Regions from separate parts of the Homo sapiens genome. Here all the other regions are linked to region 4. Evidence: fine-mapped expression QTL. A gene starts in region 4. Each other region holds a variant in brackets. All regions are shown on one strand. Distances are from middle to middle. Region 1 overlaps MARCO (macrophage receptor with collagenous structure). Region 2 overlaps MARCO (macrophage receptor with collagenous structure). Region 3 overlaps MARCO (macrophage receptor with collagenous structure). Region 4 holds the start of MARCO (macrophage receptor with collagenous structure).

Region 1 (5,151 bases), 43 kb before region 4:
AGAAATGGCTAAAAAATAGGTTCTAGAGCTGCATGTTGTAAAACTACGCTGGAGAGCAAATAAATGCTGGATTTTTCTTCTTAACCATAAGCAAGCTGGCTTTCCCCAAGTATCACAAGCTTATCAAGCTGAAAGGGTTCCAAATATTTACTTGCAAAGTGTTTTTACAGAAATAATATTCTCCCAAGAAATGTGTGTTAAGTTAGAAAACATATGCCTTCCAGTTGTTTAGTGTTGAGCTGGTGTTCTGACTAAAGTCTTCAATTGTTCCTGCTCCCAGGGAAGCTGCCTATTTCAAACCCAGAGTGCTGTGAAACTGTCAGGGACCTGGTGTTCTTCTATACTGCTTGCACGCCACAGAAAAGGAAACAGGCTCAGCAACGTCAAGTAGCTGAGCCTGTGGTCACTCAGCTAGTCAGGGGTAAGTTCAAGCTGAGGCTCAGATCTCCTGATTCTGAGTGAAATGGAGAAATCTCCAATACATTAAGAAAACTTTCTTTCTTTCCCTTTCTTTTCTTTTCTCTCACACTCTTTCTTTTCTTTCTTTCTTCTTTCTTTCTCTTTCTTTCTCTTTCTTTCTTTCTTTTCTTTCTTTCTTTCTTTCTTTCTTTCTTTCTTTCTTTCTTTCTTTCTTTCCTTCCTTCCTTCCTTCCTTCTTTCTTTCTTTCTTTCTTTCTTTCTTTCTTTCTTTCTTTCTTTCTTTCTTTCTTTCTTTCTTTCTTCTTTCCTTCCCTCCCTCCCTCCCTCCCTTCCTTCCTTCCTCTCTCTCTCTTTCTTTCTTTCTTCTTTTTGACAGGGTCTCACTCTGTTGCTCAGGCTGGAGTGCAGTGGTGCAATCATAGCTCACTGCAGGCTCAAATTCTTTGGCTCAAGTGATCCTTCTCCTCCTCCTTCAGCCACCTGAGTAGCTGAGACTACAGGTACATGCCACTATGCCCAGCTAATTTTTTTATGTTTTGTAGAGAGGGGGACATTGCTGTCTTGCCCCGTCTGGGGAAACTTTCCTAAATACCATGCCAACTTGGAGGCTAGATGCAACCTGGCAAATTTAGGATTGAGCTAATAACTGACAAATCGACCTTGTGGTAAGAAGTGAGATGAAGGATAAGGGACTCAAAATTGGGGTATGTGTAGACTTCTGCAAAGCTCTCTCAGAAACTTAGAGGAAAATGAGGAAGAGTTTTATAAATGACAATTTAGTGATTTGACTTAGTAGAATTTAATAAATTATTGGACTATCTCAGAACTTAGATATAAGGAATGGAATTAACTAAGAAATTATATTCATGACATAGGGCTCAATTGCTATTATGGATGATCTTTTTGGCTTATCTTTAAAGTAAAACATCTTCAAATACAGATGAGAAAATGGATTTTGAGTTATTTGCACTTCGGTTTTGCCCCAAGAGGAAAATAAAAGGGCATGGAAAATTCACATTGCTATAGTTTAGACATAAAGGCCATTGAGATAAAGAATTTCCAATCAGATTGGTGTTTTGGAGTTTAAATGTTTTGGCTGCTTCTAATGTTATTTCATGAGGTGTAAATGGTAAAAAGAGAAATGTCATGATTACAAGCCGAAGTGGAGTCCTTCCTTATTTCTAAATAAATATTATTTCAAAATAGCTAAGACATGTAGAGCTAAAATTGGATTATTCTTCTGCAATCTTTGAAAGTGAAAATGTTAGAAATACTAAGTGATGGAGGCTGGACAGGGTCTGTTTCTAGTAGGTAAAAAAAGTGACCCTGAGAGAAGGTTCTGCAGGGTATGGTGCCTTGCTTAATAAACTGTGGAGGTTATCTTCCCACCAGAATGGGAAGAATTTCCTCTTTGTCTTCTTTAATATGAGCTGGCTCCTCTCTCAAGAGATGCAAACAAGAGGAAGCATTTCACCTGAATGGGGTAGAGTGTGGTCAGTGGCTGTGGAGGAGGTAGAAAGGCTTGGTGACCAAGCCAGGATTTACCCATTTATGGAGGAGTGGGAGGTGTGGCTGGGGTGGGGACAGGGTGAAGGTAAC[C/T]GATTTCTCTCAAATCATACACTCTACGTTCTTCCATAAAACCGATTCTGGAAAAGCACAACTCTGGAATCAGACTTTGGGATTCACTTCTGAATTCAGTTCATGCTCCCTGTGACACTGTGAGCAAAGGGTTTACTCTCTCTGAGCCTTTGCTTCCTTGTTTGTAAAGTAGGAATGATAAGTTCAGTGTGATCATGGGAGTCAAGACCCAGGCACAGTGCCTGGCCCAGAGGCACTGATAATAATGAACAGACCGCTCATGTTTTTAAAATAATTAATGCGCAGTAATGAAACCTAGCTGTCACCTAGGTCAAGCCAACGCACTGTAATTTTTCTGTTTTCATCTAAAGTGGCTAGATATTCTCTTGAGAGATTAACGATTTTATTTACAAAATGGGAAATACATCAGTTTGGAAACCTGGCTTGATATATCAACACTGGCCAAGCACTGCAGTGGCTTTAGTTTGGGGAATACCGACATCCTGACATTGACAAGTATACACTGTGCTCCATGATGGGGAGATTGGGCTCCCACCCTCTGCCTGCCCCTGCTTCTCCCACTTCAGAAGTTGTCAAATCTAATCTCTCCGGAAGTTTATTAGCCTATGACTCCAGGATGATCTACATACCCAGCTAAATTAGCCAGATTATGGTCCTATTGGAATTCCCCTCTGAGATGTCCATGTGGACTGTCAGCTACTAAATCAAGGAAAACATTTGGACTCGGGTGGGCAACCTGCACAGTTTTAGATAAACGGGAATTATCACAAGCCCCAAATTGAAATGCACTTCCTCATGTTTACTTGGTCAGCCAGAATTAAGGGTAACCCCTAGAATTTGCTGGCTGGTACTCACCACTAGGCCTAATTATTGGAGAACTCCATAAGGGTATTCAGCAGATATAAAAGGTCTCGATGAGGATGAAATTAAAATGATCCCCAAGCTATGGGCCAAAAGTCTTTTGCTAAAATGGGTGTGGGGTCCTGGTTAAATAACTAAGAACCATGATAGGGCCTGAAAGCTTCATGTTTCTTCCCAGGAATGGAACAAGCTGCTACCTTCTGCTCTGATCCTTTCTGAACTGGGATGAAGGGAGGAGGTGTCACTCATCAGCACACCCTGATTGTGGGGCTGGGGAGGGAGAACTCATGATAGACTGTACTAATAAGATCCCAAGCTTTGTCTTGTACTGGCCTAGATTTGAACCTGGCTGCATCTCTTAATGGCTGTTTGACCGTAAAGTTGTGCTACAAAGAGTGCTTGTCCCACTGGGTGTCAAGAAGATGCTCATTAGCAGGAGCTGCTTTTGTTCTGCAAATCCTCCCAGGATGCAAAGGGCAGGGCAGGATTCCCTACCCTCAGACTGTGGAAGACACAAGCTTGGGGCTTGGGGAGTAAGCACAATGCTCCTGTGGGTAAAATCATGTTTTACCTCCAATACTCTTGGTTAGTTGAGAACCGTTAGTCTGGCAGTGGGGGTGGGGGCAGAGGGTGACTACTATTTACAACCGAGAGATGAAAGCAATCATCTCCATGAAATCACACAGAAGGCTCAGGGGCAAGAGAGCATCAGGTCTCATAGTCAGATGGACTCTGAGACTGGGGACCAGAGAAGATGGAATTATAAGATCAGAATGGACAGTGAACAAGTCAGGAACATCTGACGACTATACCCAGATGGAAACTTTCCTATGGTGAGACCCAGCTAGTGGCCTTCAGGTGGCATCCACATGGGATCAGGTAGCAGGGATCCTCCCAAACACACTGTCCATAAAAAACACAATTGCTCTGGGGCTCGACAGATTACAAGGACAGAGAGGGTGTAAAACTGCGCTTGCCATGGCTCCCGACAGCTTTCAAAGAAACACAAAAGCTCAAGCCCAGAGCCCAAGGTTTGCCAGGAGGTGGTGATGAATGAATCAATCAATTGATTAGAGCTGTGGAGGGCCAGGTCCCAGTGTAGGTCTCTAGCACAGCACGGGGGTGAGGGCATCCAGGTTGTCTGACACAAGCGTGACCTTCTCAGGCAGAGGACAGGGGTGGAGGCAGACTGTCTACAGATGTCCTTGGCAGACATGCAGCTTTACATCACAACCCTGCCTTCCCCATTGCCCCTCCTGCCCGCTCTTGGCTTTCCAATGTGCAACAGTTCTCCACAGAAATGCCCAATCAGAGTGTGCCCACATCATCTGGCAACAGTCTCTGTTCACTGCAATACCCTGCATGTCAGGGCAGAAAGGCAGGAATTGATCTTATGCATTGTGATAGTGGTCTGGACTTTCTAGACCAAGCAAGCACACTGTGACTGGACCAAAACGGCTTATAAAGTAGACTATATTGGTACAATGGTTTACGACCTAGACTAAATAGACATGATGGTATATAACCTAGACTAACCTAGACTCTGTTGGCATTATGGTATAAACTAGTCTTTGGCTAGTGTGGGTCAGTGCTCCCAGGCTGCCCCCCTAGGAAAATGTGGAAGAAGAGTTTTCTGGACCCTCCAGCCTGAATCTAGACTCTTGGACCCCCTCTTAGGGGCCCCAATGAAGGGTTAGCAGGAGACAGCAGAAACGTACAGCTGGGAGGCAGACCAGGGAGATGGTATGGGCAAGGTGCTTTGCTCTCCTCCGTGATGCTGGAGGTTTGGTCATGGCATTCAAGGACTTTCATGAGCTCTGAGAAGAGAAAGAACAGCCCTAGGCCCTTGGGCTTAAGGGGTCCTGGCAGGGGCAACTGCCCCCATAACCAGGAACCTCAGAGGCCAAGGCACAGAAGACCCTCTGCCTCCTCCGTGGGCCTAAGAAGAAGCAGTTTTTCTCTCCATCCATCCTGCCACCCAGCAAGCCCACCTACTCACCCACTGCACCCTCTGTTACCTGTGTCCCCTTTGCTTCCTTTCAGGCCTGTGGCTCCTGGACTCCCGGGGCTCCCTGGAAGTCCTGGACAACAGACACCACAGAGAGCATAAGGGCTGGACTAGGCAGGTTTTCACACATCACTCCCTGTGCCCACCATAGGACCCAGGACCTCACCTGCTCGCCCAGGGGAGCCAGCACTGCCAGGCTCACCCTTGGCACCTGGGTGTCCCACTGCACCAGGAGGGCCCGGAACACCCTGCAGTCCAGGTTG
Region 2 (5,151 bases), 30 kb before region 4:
CCCTTTAGCTGGGTGACCTTGTGCAAGTTACATCATCATTTTGAGCCTCAGCTCCCTCATCAGTAAGATGGAATTAGTGTACTAATTACACAGGGATGTCCTGAGATTACCACGTGGGGACCATCATGGAAAACACACAAGGCAAGCTCACAGGAAGGCTCACAAGGGCAGGGCCTTGTCTGTCTTCTTCATGTCTGGATCCCCAGTGCCTATGCGACTTCTCATCCTCATGGAACTTTCAATAGGTATTTGTTGGGAGGAAGGAAAGAAGTCCAGGATGGATAGGGGAGAGAAACAGAGAGGCAAGTGGGTTTCGCAATCCCCTTCCCTGAAGCTTGGCTGAGGAGCAGTTCCCCTGACTGTGTTCCAGGCAGCCTGCGTGGGAAGGCAGTTCCACCGGCAGGCTGCCTCCAGTGAGACCATGACTTCTGGGTTCCACACCCAGCCCTCCTCCCCCACCCACCTATTTGTCTCTGGAGCCTTTTCAACAAAGGAACCTCTGGGAAGTCTTGACCAGGCAAGGCAAGCCATGGGGAAGGGGAGAGAACACAGCCTCCCTGGGTGGGAAAGGGTGATGGGCGGGGAATCTGGAGAGGCAGGTGGTGTCCGAGGAGGAGCCGAGACTTCTATAGCCCCAGCTGCTGGAAGAAGTTTCCTGTCTCTGGTTTCTGGGCACAAAAAGAAAGAGTGGGAAGAGACAGAGAGAGAGAGAGAGAGACAGAAGTCAGAGACAGAGAGAGACTGAGAAAGACATGGAGAGTGAGAGTTGGAGATTTTCTCTATGTACATACATCTATATTCAGAGAGAGAGAGAGGGAGACATGGAGAGAGATAGTTGGAGTTTTTCTCTATGTACATACATCTATATTCAGAGAGACAGAGAGAGAGACATGGAGAGAGAGAGTTGGAGTTTTTCTCTGTGTACATACATCTATATTCAGAGAGACAGAGAGAGAGACATGGAGAGAGTCGGAGTTTTTCTCTATGTACATACATCTATATTCAGAGAGACAGAGAGAGAGACATGGAGAGAGAGAGTTGGAGTTTTTCTCTATGTACATACATCTATATTCAGAGAGACAGAGAGAGAGACATGGAGAGAGAGAGTTGGAGTTTTCCTCTATGTACGCACATCTATATTCATACAGAGAGAGAGAGAGCCATAGAAGCCATGTTCTGTGCTCTGGGGTGAGGTGGGCAGCACTGTGCCTAGGGCGGGTGACAGGCAGATTTTGAAGGTTGTACTGAACCCATTGGGTTGAGAAGAAGTTTAAGCATTGATTCTGTCAGCAAAAGCAATTGAAATTGTTGAAACTGCCCCTCCTTAAAGGAGAGGAGCCAGCATTCATCAGGCTGGAGGCTCTCCTAGCAGCAGCATTTAGTTTTCTCAAGAATAACAGAATAACAACCATATATAACAATAGCAAATAATAGTCATAATAATAACGAAGACAAGAACATCATTGAGTACTTGCTCTTTGCTGGACACTGGACTAAGAGGTGTACATTTATTGTTTTATCCTGACACCAATCCTAGGAAGTCCTACCATATCTCCATCTTACGGGGGAGGACATAGAGCTCAGAAATGTTAGGTGACTTACTCAAGGCCACCCAGTTTACAGGGGCAGATCCAGGATTTTCTGTAGGCCCACCAGTCTCCCAAGTCCCTGCTTCCATCACTTTGCAAGGCTGCCTCAAAACCCTCCCTGGCCAATGGTGTGATCTGGGCCATCCTTGAAATATTATGGGACCAAAGGATTCTGTCCCAAAAATGGCATGTATATTTATCCTCAGGGGGAAATTTCAACCACTCAGCAGATGAAATGGAACAGGGCTGTGAGTGAAGCGTGTGTGTAACACAACACATGTGGGTTGAGGCAGGAAGAAAAGGCAAACAACCATAGCCTTGTCCTCAGAGAGCACATGCCATTGTCAGACAGCTTTTGCACTCCCTTGAGTCCTACAGCAACTCTGTGAGGCGAGTCGATTATCTCCACTGCTTCCTACACAGGTGAGTGGCTGGGGCTCCAGAAAACTTAAGTAACTGACCCAGAGTCACACCGCCAGTAAGCCCCAGGCCCAGGATTAGAACTCAGATCGGCCTGACCGCACAGCCTGCGCCTCCATGACACCTGCCTCCCATCATTACTGCCCTGTAGGAGAGAGGAGTGAGACACCATGGAAATGAGCACAGCACCTCTGGTGGGAAGTGCTATGTATGTGGTAGGTAAGAGTCACCTGGAAGGAATGCTTACAGGAAACCAGGAGAGAGGCTGCCCTGGCAGCCAGATGATGCCTGGTCTGGCCTGGGAAGGTAGCTAGATTTGGATGGGGGAGTGGAGAGAGGAAGCCTCTTTAAGTAAGGAGGGGGATGACAGCCCAGGGTCTGGGAGTCCAGTTAAGTTCTGGGAACAGAGAGGAGACCCAACTGAAGACAAAGGAGGCTGTGGAGACAGGGGAAGGTAAGCTAGGGTCAGCTGTCCAGACCCAGAATGGCACAGGCCAAGGGGCCCTTTTGGGGAGGTTTTGGGGAAAGAGCAGGGTGGGTGTGAGTGGAAATGAACCTACCTGGGGCGCCTTGTTCACCTTTGATTCTGAACATCCCTGCAAGGGAAGGAGAGTGAGCTGCAGCTGAGCTGTGGGGTACCCTTGGCCCAAGCCCCAACTGAGAGTGCCCAGGTTCTGCAGTGGGAGGGTAAGCCCTCCTGTGTGGGGCTCCCATCAGACTGTGGGGGTTTGGACAACAGGAGCCAAGCACCTGGCTGTTTTTTGGGAAAGAGTCCTTGGAAAGAGCCAGATGCTCAGCTGCAACTAGCGGACTGCACCCCGAGACCTGTAGATCCCTGGGAGTCTTGGAGGTGGGGAAAGGAGGTTGCTTCAAACCAGCCTGAGGAGGTAGAACCCCTTCGTATTGGTCAAAATGAGCTCCTTCACATTTCAAGGAAGGAAGAGACACTCCCATGGTGTCTGTGTCTGAACGTGGACTCCTTCCATCTGCCCACAGCTATCGCCCCTCCTCACACCCCCACTCAGCCTTCGTCTTTTCTCCCTGGGGAGGCCACAGCCTCTGGAGGGATTGGCCTCCTGGGTCCCGTGCTGGGCGTACCCCTTGGTCACAGGACCTAGCCATGGGATCACCCTCCTAAGCCTCAGCTCACACAGGGCCCAGAGCAAGGAACCCTGCTGGGGCTGGAGCTCTGTGTCAC[G/A]GGGTAAACCCTACAACAGTTGAGCCACACCTAGCAGCTGGTTTTGCTGAAACTGTCTGAGGGCGAGGCTCTTCCCATTTTGGGGCAGGCTGAGAGAGGAGAGGGTGCAGCTGCAAGGCCCTGAGAGCACCGAGGGAAGGGGCACCCTTGGGGTTTTAACCCTTGGCTCAATTTTCCCCAGCCTGCAGCCCTACCACCCAAGTCACCACCTTTCCCCCAGCAGGTCCGGGTGTCCTCCTCCCCACAAAGTCCCCACATTGTCTGAACTAGTTTGGTGCCTTCAGTTGCTCTCTCCCCAACCTCATGTCAGTGTAAGTCAGCTGTGGGGGAGTGGTCCAGGGAACCGCCCCAGGCTCTGTGTTTTACCCTCCCTCCCAGACATTCTGGATCCATGTGGGGACTCTGGGTTCAGACTTGGCATTGAGCTGGTTGCTCTAAGTCCCTGGCTCTTGGAGGTCACACTTTGCTTGGACAGGGTCCTTAATTTCCTGGTTCCTGATCCCGCTGTCTCCCAGACCTCTGTTGAGAAGTCCTGACCCAGAGGGGAGGAGGCCAAACCTGGGTTCTGAGTGAAGTTGTCTACCCGCTGCAGCAAGTGCTCATGGCTGACGCGGACCCAGGTGAGTTGGGCCTGCAGGACTTGCAGCCTCGATGCACCCTGAGCCAGGTGTTCTCCAGGGTGTGCTGACTGCAGCAAGGAGAAGGACGGGCTGTCCTCAGCCGCCAGAGTGTCATTGAGGAAATACATCTCCAGGACCCGGAGCCGCGCCTGCAGATTCAGAACTGGGCCCCACCCCACAGCATTCTTTTAGGGACTGAGGCATTTGAGCATATCCCTGACATTCTTGTGTCATGTGTGCATAACTTCTACAGGCCCTGAATTTGTAAACACAAATTCCATGTGCTGTCAGGACCTAGCGTGAGCACACGGCCTTTTCTACATCTTGACCATGTGCGCTCCACACTCAGGCATGATATTGCACGTCCACAAAACATTTCTGCGTGGCCTAAAGCTGTGCCTACTGCATCCACAATCAATCTCCAACCTTCAGGCAGTTAAGACCTTCCTGCATGCTCTGGGTGTAGATGCATGACAGCTAACATGCTGGTCTGACCTAAATATGTGCAAGCAGCATTCGTGTGTGATCTTAATACACACAAGACGTGTTTATGACAACTGCTCATTCAGCGTTCTTGAGTGACTTCAGTGTCTGCTCATGGAACGACTTCATGACTTTAACCTTTAGATTGGGAATACTTCAAAAGTAAAATCATGTTCAAATGGACACTTGGATCAGCAAAGCCCTTCCCACTCAGAGGCTGGGAGTCTTAGATGTCAGAAGTGTGTGTCATCCCCCGTGTGAAATTATGATGTCTTTCACTGCTTAGACACATAGGCTCACAAGAGCATTCTCAATGTCTCTCTCTCTCCCTCCCTCAGGCACACATACACACAACATACACTCCTTCTTTGCTCCTCTCATCACTGTGGCTGCCAGGGGCTGAGACTGTCTCCCAGCAGATGGGAGCAGTGGCCCGAGGCTCTCCACTCAACCTGAGCCCTTCATCTGAGGGGCCCAGCTGGGTCACCCCTCTCCCCCCAGGAGGGACTACACAGGACCAAGCCTGCTTTACCTTGGACCACCAGCAGCCCAGCGCCAGCGGTGAGCAGGATCAGGTAGATGACCACCACAGCTAGGGAGAAGTTCACCCCATTTCTCCTCTTGGGCTTTGGAACTGAAACACAAGCCAGGAGGAAGGAGGCTGCTGCAGAGAACACAGCACAGGAAGTCCCTGCCTGCTCCAGGCCCTACTCCATGTGAGCAGGGGGCACCCTGTGAGGTCAGCTGGGAAAGACACCAAAAGCTCATGACTCCCAAATCATCCCCCAATCCTCTTTCTTGCCACAAAGCAAAAATTGCCACTGTTGGTCACTCATCTGTG
Region 3 (5,151 bases), 24 kb before region 4:
AGCACCTATTCCACACCAGGCATTTACCAACATCATCTCTAACCATTGCAGCAACCCTGCAAGGTAGGCATGGTTACACTCCTTTACAGAGGAGAGAGCTGGGGTTAAAAAGTTAAGGTGGCAGGTGACACAGCAGGCATATGACCCCAGGTTGGTCTAGCTTCAAGGCCTGAGCTTGCCTCACTAGCCTGCACTGACCACTGCCCCTAGGAAAGATCCAGTTGAAATGGGCCCCAAGGGCACATCTGAAAGGGAAACAGACAATAATGAAGGAGCCCAAGGGAATGTGTGCCCAACCATGTTTGCTTTTGTGATAGGGGCAGGTGGGTTTTAACTATTGTGACAGATGCACTTAAACCTCAGATCTTTTCCTATCACCTGCAGCTCCTGTGTTTACCCTGCTGATATTCCTTCCAACCCCCGCACAGCAGGGACCCCTGCTTGAGAAATGCCCAGATGAACAATGGTCTAGGGGTAGCTCTGGCAGCACAGAGAGGAGTGGTTTTGTTGGTGGGTTGGTTGTTTAGCTAGTGGTACTCGATTATACTCAGTTTAGCATGGAGTGCCCCGTCTCCTCTGCACCCTACCCCCCAGAATCCAGGCTCACACAGCAGCCTGAGTGAGCCCCACAACACATAACCTGCCCAAGTCATTCCCTGCTCTCAGCCCTTCAGTGGGGGCTCACTGCTCCCAACCTGGCACCTGAAGCCCGTCTGGCCAGCTCTCCTATGGCTGCAGTTCCATGTCACACCTCCACATGGATCCTGACCAATGGCCAGGCCAGATGACAACTGGTGGCATTCTTCTGACTTGGGGCAATGTGTGTCCCCTGAATACTGGCTCTCCTCCTTCCCTTTCACAAGACTAATTTCTGCTCATCCTTCGGAAGTTCAGTAGAGCCCGTCCTGCTTCAGGACACCTTCTCTGGTTCCTCTGGGCTGGGTGGAACCCCCCTTGGCTCTCCCACATCACTCTGTTTCTCTCTGCCATAGCACTGATCACCCTGGATTGTGTTTTTGTCTCTGTCTCCCCAAATGGCCTGGAAGCTCTTTGAGCTGTATTCCAGCACCAACGTGGTATCTGGCACACAACATGCTGGGAAGATGATGACTGAATAGATGAATGAATGAGTGGCTACAGAGGTTTGGGTGCTGAACATGTGCAGAGTTAGAAGTGTTGAAAGAACATCAGGAATGCAACTCAGGGCCTCAGGTATTCATGCAACCGTCATGATGAAGACAAATAACACACGAGGGGAGCCTCACATTTAACACGAGGTGGTGGATGGCAAATTGGCAAATACAGTGTCATGGACAGCACTGTTTTTGGACAGCACTAAATTTTATGAAACAAACATCATGGGAATGGAAAGGTAAATTGTGCTTCAGAGACACAGGTATTACAGAAGTCAGAGGCTGGAGCAAGCATGGAAAATACAGATATTTTGAAACCATATGGTCAGAGCGTGGTGGAAGGCATGTGAGTAAGGATACAATGAGAAAAAATAAGGTATGGTAATACTGTGACAGTAGTTCATGGATAGCCATCCAGGCCCAGAATGCTTTTTAAATTCAGAGCTACCACCTGGCATAGAGGCAAAGTATTTTAGAAACTGGGAATGTTGAGCCTGTAGACCTATATAACTCATTCTGTACAAAATGGAGGGTCTGATGAAGTCTTTAGCCTCTACACTGTTCATTTCATCTCTTAGAGGGTAGAAGAAACTATAAAGAAAACACCTATTCTGGATCAGGTTTGACCAAAGAGGAAGAGCTGCTTGACATGAGAGGATAAAAACAGCTGCTAGTAAATAAAAATGGGCTTCCCTGGAGTAAACCTTGATGAGTATGGGCAAAGATTTTAGGCAAGCAGGTTTCAGAAATTTGACAGCTCTATTGTCTGGCCCACAATGAAAACATAGCTCAGGAGGGAAATAAAAATAATTTTTCAAGTCTGTAAAAGATCCCAGTGAAGAAAAAAAGCCTGCACACAAATTCTAGTCTTTCCAGGTCTGCCACCTCCTGGGGTAGCAGGCAGTGCTGGTAGGGTGTCCTCCTCCAGGTCTGCCACCTCCTGGGGTAGCAGGCAGTGCTGGTAGGGTGTCCTCCTCCCGTGCTATAACACTAGTGGACATTGAGCAGGTGTCCTCACTCTACCCTAGCACTGGGCTGCCTGGTGAGCAGACCCAGAGAAGTAATGTCTTCCCTTTGGGCCTGATGTATCTCACTTCCTACCTGATAGCACCAGGCAGTACTGGAACGTGCCTTCTGCCTTGCAGGAAGGACCAGCAGGGGACCAGCAAGAACTAATGGCACCAGGTAAACAAAGTGGATCAAAATAACGTGGACAGGGCTCTGAAAACTAAATTGTCATTGTACCATAGCCCACACAAGTAGGCCAGAACCTACATAATAAACCTAAACTGTGTGACTCTGTGACTGTCTACTAAAATAGAAGTTTTAAATAGGACTCAGAATCTCCTAACATACTATACAAAACATCCATTATATAATGGAAAATCACCCATCATACAAAGAATAGAGAAAATCACAACTCAGATGAGAGGAGACAATCAAGAGATACCAGCATTGAGATGACACAGATGTTAAAACTATTCCACAAGAATTTTAAAGCAGCTGTAACAAAATGCCTTAGTGAGCAATTAAAACTATTCTTGAAACAAATTTTTTAAAAGCTCACCAAAATAGTACAACATATAAAAAAAGAACCAAATGGAAACTATAGAACTAAAAAAATACCAATGAAAGAAAAAAGACTTGGTAGATGAGCTGAATAGTGTAATAGATGTGACAGAGGAAAGAATCAGTTAACTCGATGATAGAACAATAGAAATTACACGTCTGAAAAACAGAAAATCAGCTGGGAAAACAAACAAACACACATGAACAGAGCCTCAGAGACCTGTGGGCCAGTAACAAAACACCTACAATTCATATCATTTAATTCCTAGAAAAAGTGTGAGGCTTAAAAAATATTCAAAGAAATAATGGCTAAAAATTTCCCTAATTTCGTGGAAGATCTAAACCTACAGATTAAAGAAACTGCCAAAATCGCAAACATGATAAACTCAAAGAAATCCATATCAAGACACATCATAACTAAAACATTGAAAACATAAAAAGGCAGAGAAAATTAAACATCTAAGGAAAAAGGAAAAATCTAGAAAGCAGCCAGAGACAAATGGCACATTACTTATAAAGGAATACTTTTTTTTTTTTTTT[TG/G]AGATGGTATCTCACTCTGTCGCCCAGGCTGGAGTGTACTGGCATGATCTCTGCTCGCTTCAACCTCCATCTCCTGGGTTCAGGTGATTCTTGTGCCTCAGCCTCCCAAGTAGTTGTGATTACAGGTGCACGCCACCATGCCCGGCTAATTTTTATATTTTTAGTAGAGACAGGGTTTCACTATGATGTCCAGGCTGGTCTTGAATTCCTGACCTCAAGAGATCCGCCCACCTCAGCCTCCCAAAATGCTGGGATTACAGGCATGAGCCACTGTGCCTGGCCAGGAATACCAATTTGAATGACAGAAAGTTTCTCATCAGAAACTATGGAGAACAGATGTAAGTGGTACAGCTTATTTTGTGTTCTGAAAAAGAAGAATTGTCAACCAGGAATTATATTGCCAATAAAAATACACTGTGGGAATGGACAAGAAATAAAGACACTCTCAGAGGAAGAGAAATGAAGAGAATCTTTTACTGGCAGAACTAACTTTAAAGAATGACTAGAGGAGGTTCCCCTAACAGAAAGGAAATGATATAGTAAACTAGAATTTCAAAAAAGAAAGAGAATAATAGAACAAGTAAAAATAGGGATATATACTACAGCATCCTTCTCCTCATGAGTTTTAAAAATCACATTTGATTTTTAACACAAAAATTATACCACCTGATGTGGTGTTCAGTGAATGTAATAGAAAATGACAATTATATTTAAAAAGTGGAGAAGGCTAAAGAACATAAATGAAAGTAAGATTTCTACACTTGACTCAAAATGGTAAAATGTTGATATGTTCTGTATGTATATTGCAATAGCCAGGCTGCGATAAGTTCCATATGTATATTGCAATAAGTAGAGAAACCATTAAGAAAACTATTCAATAAAAAACACTATAAATAAATCAAAATGGAATTCTAAAAATTATTCAAATAATCCACAGGAAGGCAAGAAAAGAGAAATACATGAATGGGAAACAAAGAAAAAACAGAAAACACACAATAAGATGGCCAATTTAAGCACTGACATATCAATAATTACTTTCGGTATAAATGGTCTAAATCAGAGGACGGATATTGCCAAACTGTATTAAAAAACATAATCCAACAATGTGCTATAAATAAGAAATCAAACAATAGAACTTCAAAATACATGAAGCAAAAACTGATTTAACTGAAAAAAGAAATAGACAATACACAATTATAGTTGAGACTTTAACACGTAGTTTCAGCAATTGATAGAAACTCTGCAAAGTTACAGAAGAACTAAACACTAGCACTACTGACTGATAGTATCTAATGAACACACAGAATACTCCAGGTAGCAACAGCAGAATGTACATCCTTTTCAAGGACACATGGAACATACACCAAAATAGATGATATCCTAGGTCATAAAACAAATTTCAACCAAATGAAAAAAAACCAAGGTCATACAGAATACCTTATTTGCCAATAATACAATAAAAATAAAAATCAACAATGGATAGGCAACAGGAAAATCTCCAAACATTTGGAACATTTAAAAAAGGACTTCTATATAATGCATGGGTCATTAAGAAAGCATCAAAAAAATTTTAAAAATACAAATGAAAGGAAATGAAAATACAATATATTAAAATTTATGGGATAAAAAAAAGCAGCTCTGAAAAGAAAATTTATAGCACGAACTGCTTACACCAAAAATAAAAAAGGCCTCCAATCAACACACTAAGTTTTTTCCTCAAGAAATTAGAAAAGAACAAAATAACTCCTAATCACCAGAAAAGGAAATAATAAAGATAAGAATATAAATAAATAAAATTTAAAATAGGAAGATAGAGAAAAATCAATGAAACAAAAGCTAGCTCTTTGAACAAAGTCAATAAAATTGGCAAATCTCTAGCAAGACTGAACAAAAATAAAAATGAAAGAA
Region 4 (5,151 bases):
GCACTCTTCTAGAAAGTTTCATATGTTCCACAATCTTTGTATTAGAAGGCAGGATGTTGTGAATGCATATAAGAAAATGTTTCTTTCATCCAAATTGGAGTAGTTTTGGTTTTTTGGTGAGATACTTTAAACATTTTATTTATTTATTTATTGGTGGAGATAGGGTCTCACTATGTTGCCCAGGTTGGTCTCAAATTCCTGGGCTCAAGGAATCCTCCTGCACTGGCTTAGTTACATTTTTAATTGGTGACACACACAACCCAGGTCAGAAATCTAGGGTTCACTATTAACTCCTGCGTCTTCCTCCCCAGCCCTGTCCTGCCATTGCAGTCCAATTGATCTGATTTCCGGTGTTTCTCCAGAGCATTCCTTTATTTTCCTGCCTTCCATCCACTGCCCCTCATCATCTCTTGCTGCCAAGTTCCTCTCTGTCCTCAGCTTCTCTCTCCAGCCATCCCTATGTAGGACAAAGAGCAACCTCACATGCACATTAGTGCCTTTCAGCCCCACATCGGCCCCTTCCTGCTTCCCCACTGACCTCAGGATGAAGTCAAATTTTTTGGTTCCAGCCTCAGTCCCCACTGGTCTTTCCGTCCCAATTTTGGCCAAACAGTATGGAAGTATTTATATTTCTCTGAATATTTCTTGTGAATACAATACAAACATGTGGCGCCCACCCCGCCCCAGGCACTAACTTCTTTCTCTAACGGACTCCCTTTATCCTTTAAACTTTGGAAGAGGTGTCAGCTCTGCCCTCCAGGGCTCTACACCTGGTTAGATCTGTCCATCATGTCCTGTGGAAGTCTCAGTCACAACATGGAAATTGTCAGTTCATGGGCAGCTTACCCTGTCCCCTGTCCCCTCGTGCCAGAAGCCAGAGGCCAGAGGCTATGTTTATTCAAGCCTGTTTCCTCAGTGCTGAGTGCAGTGCCCTGCTGGAAATAGGTGCTGAGTATGCTTGATCAGCTGACTTTGCTTGAACATCTTCAGTCTCTTAAACAGTCATGTATCCAGAATGTTGCATTCTGAGAAGTTCTAAATAGCCAATGATTATTATAGCCATTAGCACTCACACCTTTCTCTGTTATTACACTGTAAATTCCTAGAGGCAGAGCCCCAGACGCTTCATCTTTGTGCGCTGAAAATTCCAGGCAGGGACCTGGGCAGACAGGTGTGGGATGAGAAGGACACTCTGGCCAGGAGATAAAGCCACCAATTTTCCTGCATAGACAACTTCCAGCAAAGCCTGGGAGTGGAAATGACTGATCAACTTGGAAGATGATCCCAAGAGAACGTTCTAGACTAGGAAATCAGAGCTCATTTGTGGAATGCAAGCCCACCCATGACTTCAAATGCTACAAATTCTAGAAGATTTTAAAAATGCATCACCTGTTGAATGCTGAGTGAGAAAATAAAGACAACAGAGTTGACTGAATATTACAGACCTGAGTTTAACCTAAGACAAACTAATTATGAAGCTATGAACATATTTCAGTCAACATGAAATACAGAATATGTTTCCTGACCAGCACATCAGTTATAACAGAAATCCCCTTAAAGAATTTTAAAGAAGCTGTGTTTTGAAAACTGTCATGCTTGGCTTCAGTTTTGTGGTCCCCTTTCAGTGCCCCTGTTTTGCGTTTTCATTGTATCACCCAACCTGTGTGTCAGAATAAGACATTCATTAAAAAAAGGGGACATTTAATAAGCATTGGCATTTTTTCAAGGGAAAATATTTAAATATGATTAAAACAATAGTGAAGCTAAGAAAAACCTGACTATATGCTAAAAATACAGCATCTATTATTAGCATTCCAGAAATTCCAAATTGAAGCACTCCAGACAGTATTAGTGATGATTACGTGCAAAATGCAGCAATAAGCCAAACCTAGACTTTCTATTGACTTGTCTATTTTCGTATCTCGCTAGCAGAAAGACTACATTTCTGGTCATTTCCATTATTGGGGAATCGTACTTTACCATTGATTTCGAAAGGCTCCATTGCAATTTGGTGAAAAGCAGCTTGTTGGGTCTCACTCAAGAGCTCGTCCTCCTTGAGAATTTTCTTATTTCTCATTGCCAAGCTTTATAGATGGCCAAAGTCCTGGAGCCAGCAGAAATGCTCCCCTCAAGAGGAACCACTTGGAGAAAGATCCTTCCCATCGAACCACTGCAGCTGGTTGTAAACCTCGCAGCACTTCCCTTTGGCTCTGATTTCAGAATTTGCAGGATGTTTCCTGACATGATCAGGATTGGACATTTCTCAAACACGGGCTATTCACATGTGGATCTCCCACACAGTGCTGCTGCTTGTTAAGGGGGATCGAGGAGGCTTTGGGACACAAGTTACGGGCCTCTGAATGCACCCGTCACTCCCAGGTCCCTGAGACCCAAAAGCTGGATGGCTCCAGAGAGGGCCAACCAAGCCCTGCCATGGGCCCAGACTCAGCTCTCTGTCCCAGGACCTCTCCAGCCCACAGTGAAATCTCCCTTCTCTGACCTGCCTCAACCTTTAGAGTTCATCCTTGCTGCTCAAAGTGTGGTCCATGGACCAGCAGTATTAGTATCACCTGAGAACTTGTTAGAAATGCAAGTTCACTTGTTCTAACAATGAGTCTCTGGTCCCACCCCATCAGATCAAATCCAAATCTACAGTTTAACTAGATCCCCAGGTGATTTATATACACATTACAGTTTGAGAAGCCTTGCTCTGAACCACACATTTTAGCACTTAGTATTTCTTCTTGTAGTTTTCCCATGTTCTCTCTCTGTGTGTGTACACATGTGTGCACATGTGTACATGTGTTACAGGTGTCCTTGTCCAGGCCCCAGTGAGATCTGAGCTCCTTAAGGAAAGTAGCTTCTCCCCTCTCTCCCTCCCGTCAGGCATCTCTACCAGGGATGCTGTATAGCATGGTGGTTAAGACACAGACACTAAGAGCTAGAATGCCTGGCTTCAAATTCCACCTCTTCCACATAGGGGCTGTCTGGCAGTAGGCAAATCACTTGAGCTTTGAGCATCTCACTCTTCTGTTTGTATAAATAAGGAAGATATGAATTTCGTGAGCCTTAAATGAATTAAATCATATAAGGTGGCTAGGATGGAAGTATTAGGTAATAAACACTATGGTCATGTTGTTGTTATTATCATTAGAGACATTGTGAGCCTGCTGGGCACCGAGGAGATGAAGAAATGGCCTTTTTTCATGAAAGATATTCACAGTCTACCATGCAAGATGGTTGCGGCTACAACTACATTCCAGAAAATTGCTGTGAAGTGCGGCAAAGGTTGATGTCCCTGAAAAGACAGAAGTGCCGGGAGGCAGGGGAGACAGGGCAGAAATATGACAAATAGCTTTATCATCTGAATCAAGAGATATCAGATACCAGAGCTGGGCTTAAAAGGATAATGGGGGATTGATCCAGATCAAGATGAGGCAAAGGCCCTCCAGGGAGGAAGGAGGGCAGGTGCAGCCTCTCAGAGGTGGGACAGCCTGGAGCAGGGGAGCCGTAGACTTTTGGCCTATTTGAAATGTAAGAGGTGAGGAAGACAGGTGGCAGGAAGTGAAGCTGTGCCAGGCGAAGTCACTTTCTTTGGCCCGTGGTATGTCAGAAAGTGAAAGGGGATGAAACTCAGGAAAGTGAGCTCCTAGCAGTGCCCTGAAAAGCAGAGGTCCCCCGTGGCGCCCACAATTTCAACATTCAGGAAGTCACTGGTTCCGCCAGAGGACAAGCAGCAGAAGCCAGGACAGAAAAATTTAAAGAGGAAAATTGGAAATGAGGAAGTGATGGCTCCAGCTAGAGTCTGGGGGGTAGACAGGACCAGATAATTGAGGACACAGGGGATTTGCCCACTGGAGGGCAGTCCCCTAGGCAAAGGAACCCGCTCACTTAGCCTGGCAGAGCTCCCTGCTCTCCCTCTGCCTCTGCCTGGTCAGCTCATCTTTGATTCTCATGGGTGTGGGGAGGGGACTTATTAGAAAATGTCATGGGCTAATTATTGAGGATCCCTGTTCTTAAAGGAAGCACTTAGTGGATGTCAAGTGTAGTCACTTCACCTCTGGCTAGAGACCAGAGAGACTTGGGTCCCAAATTCAACTCTTTCATTAACTTTCTGTGTGACCTTGGTTGACTTACTTCTCTGAACTTCCACACAGAGTAATGGCTTGTGCAAGCATTAATTCCTATCCAGGATTTACTGTTAATGCCAGACACTGTGCTAAACATTTGCATACATTGCTCAACACTCATAACTTGCAACTTGCCTTAAATTGTGTGGTTATAAAGAGCTACACCAGAATTTGAATCCAGACTCTCTGCCTCAATCTATAGACTGATTTAATTCTGGTTTAATCCAGGGGTTCCAATCCAGAGGTTTGCAGTAGAGGAATGCCAGTTTCCCATCCCAAACCTGAGGCTCTGGTTTTAATAAAAATTTCAGAAAGAGCTCTAATGTGCACCAGGCTTAGGACCACCGAGTGGTATAATTGAAGCACTCATGTGCAGTGTGGCCTCCTGACTCCATCCTAGGAGGATCCATTAGGTTGAATCATATGGAATGACAGATATTTATCTGTTTTTCATATGCAATAAATGGATACTTTATATGACTCAAGCTAATCCATTCACCTTGCAGGGCCTGAGACTCAGGGATTAGGATGAAGCAAATAATTCACTAGCCTTGAGTACAAAAGATTCAATAATCAAGATAAATAATATTTTAGTGCAATATATTTAAAAAATCAAAGTTAATGCAAAAATTCTGCGATGAACAAAATATCATCATTTTAAAGGAAGACAGAATCCCACTTTGCACGTACAATGACCCTCCTCATTTGCTTACCCTAGTCCTGGCCCTCTCATTAGCTCTGTGTTTCAGCATCCCCATTACAAAATGGGATGCCCAGAGTTGCCGTGTTTACCCATAGAGTGGATGTGTGGATCAAATAAAATAATAAATGAGTAAGTACATTTGTAAACAAAAGTTCTATATGCAGAATAGCATTTTATATCAAAAGAGCGTGTCATACGAAACTCCTGCACTGTCAATGAATCCCTTAAAAATCCTTTAAATCTTCTATAAATACAAAACACACAATTTAGGAAATATGGTACAGTCTCTTCTGAAGTCTTACTCAGACACTTTTATCT

Evidence for each region. PIP is the estimated chance that this variant, and not a neighbour inherited with it, causes the effect. A credible set is the group of variants that fine-mapping cannot tell apart.
Region 1: its variant is the best candidate, but not a certain one, in a credible set for the expression of MARCO in atrial appendage (GTEx, PIP 0.69).
Region 2: its variant is the best candidate, but not a certain one, in a credible set for the expression of MARCO in whole blood (INTERVAL, PIP 0.82).
Region 3: its variant is the best candidate, but not a certain one, in a credible set for the expression of MARCO in whole blood (TwinsUK, PIP 0.78).

What each region holds. Positions count from the first base shown.
Region 1 is chr2:118,982,158-118,987,308 of GRCh38, reverse strand. It overlaps MARCO (macrophage receptor with collagenous structure), which reads right to left. Exons shown (of 17, transcript NM_006770.4): 11 at 5,055-5,151; 12 at 4,899-4,961. Among named protein-coding and RNA genes, the nearest start is that of MARCO, 43 kb to the right of the region's middle. The variant C/T (reference allele first, on the strand shown) is at 2,020.
Region 2 is chr2:118,968,953-118,974,103 of GRCh38, reverse strand. It overlaps MARCO (macrophage receptor with collagenous structure), which reads right to left. Exons shown (of 17, transcript NM_006770.4): 2 at 4,843-4,944; 3 at 3,766-3,990; 4 at 2,570-2,605. Among named protein-coding and RNA genes, the nearest start is that of MARCO, 29 kb to the right of the region's middle. The variant G/A (reference allele first, on the strand shown) is at 3,208.
Region 3 is chr2:118,962,980-118,968,130 of GRCh38, reverse strand. The region is part of intron 1 of MARCO (macrophage receptor with collagenous structure); the gene reads right to left. Among named protein-coding and RNA genes, the nearest start is that of MARCO, 23 kb to the right of the region's middle. The variant TG/G (reference allele first, on the strand shown) is at 3,243.
Region 4 is chr2:118,939,227-118,944,377 of GRCh38, reverse strand. It overlaps MARCO (macrophage receptor with collagenous structure), which reads right to left and starts at 2,184. Exons shown (of 17, transcript NM_006770.4): 1 at 1,981-2,184. The coding sequence starts at 2,077.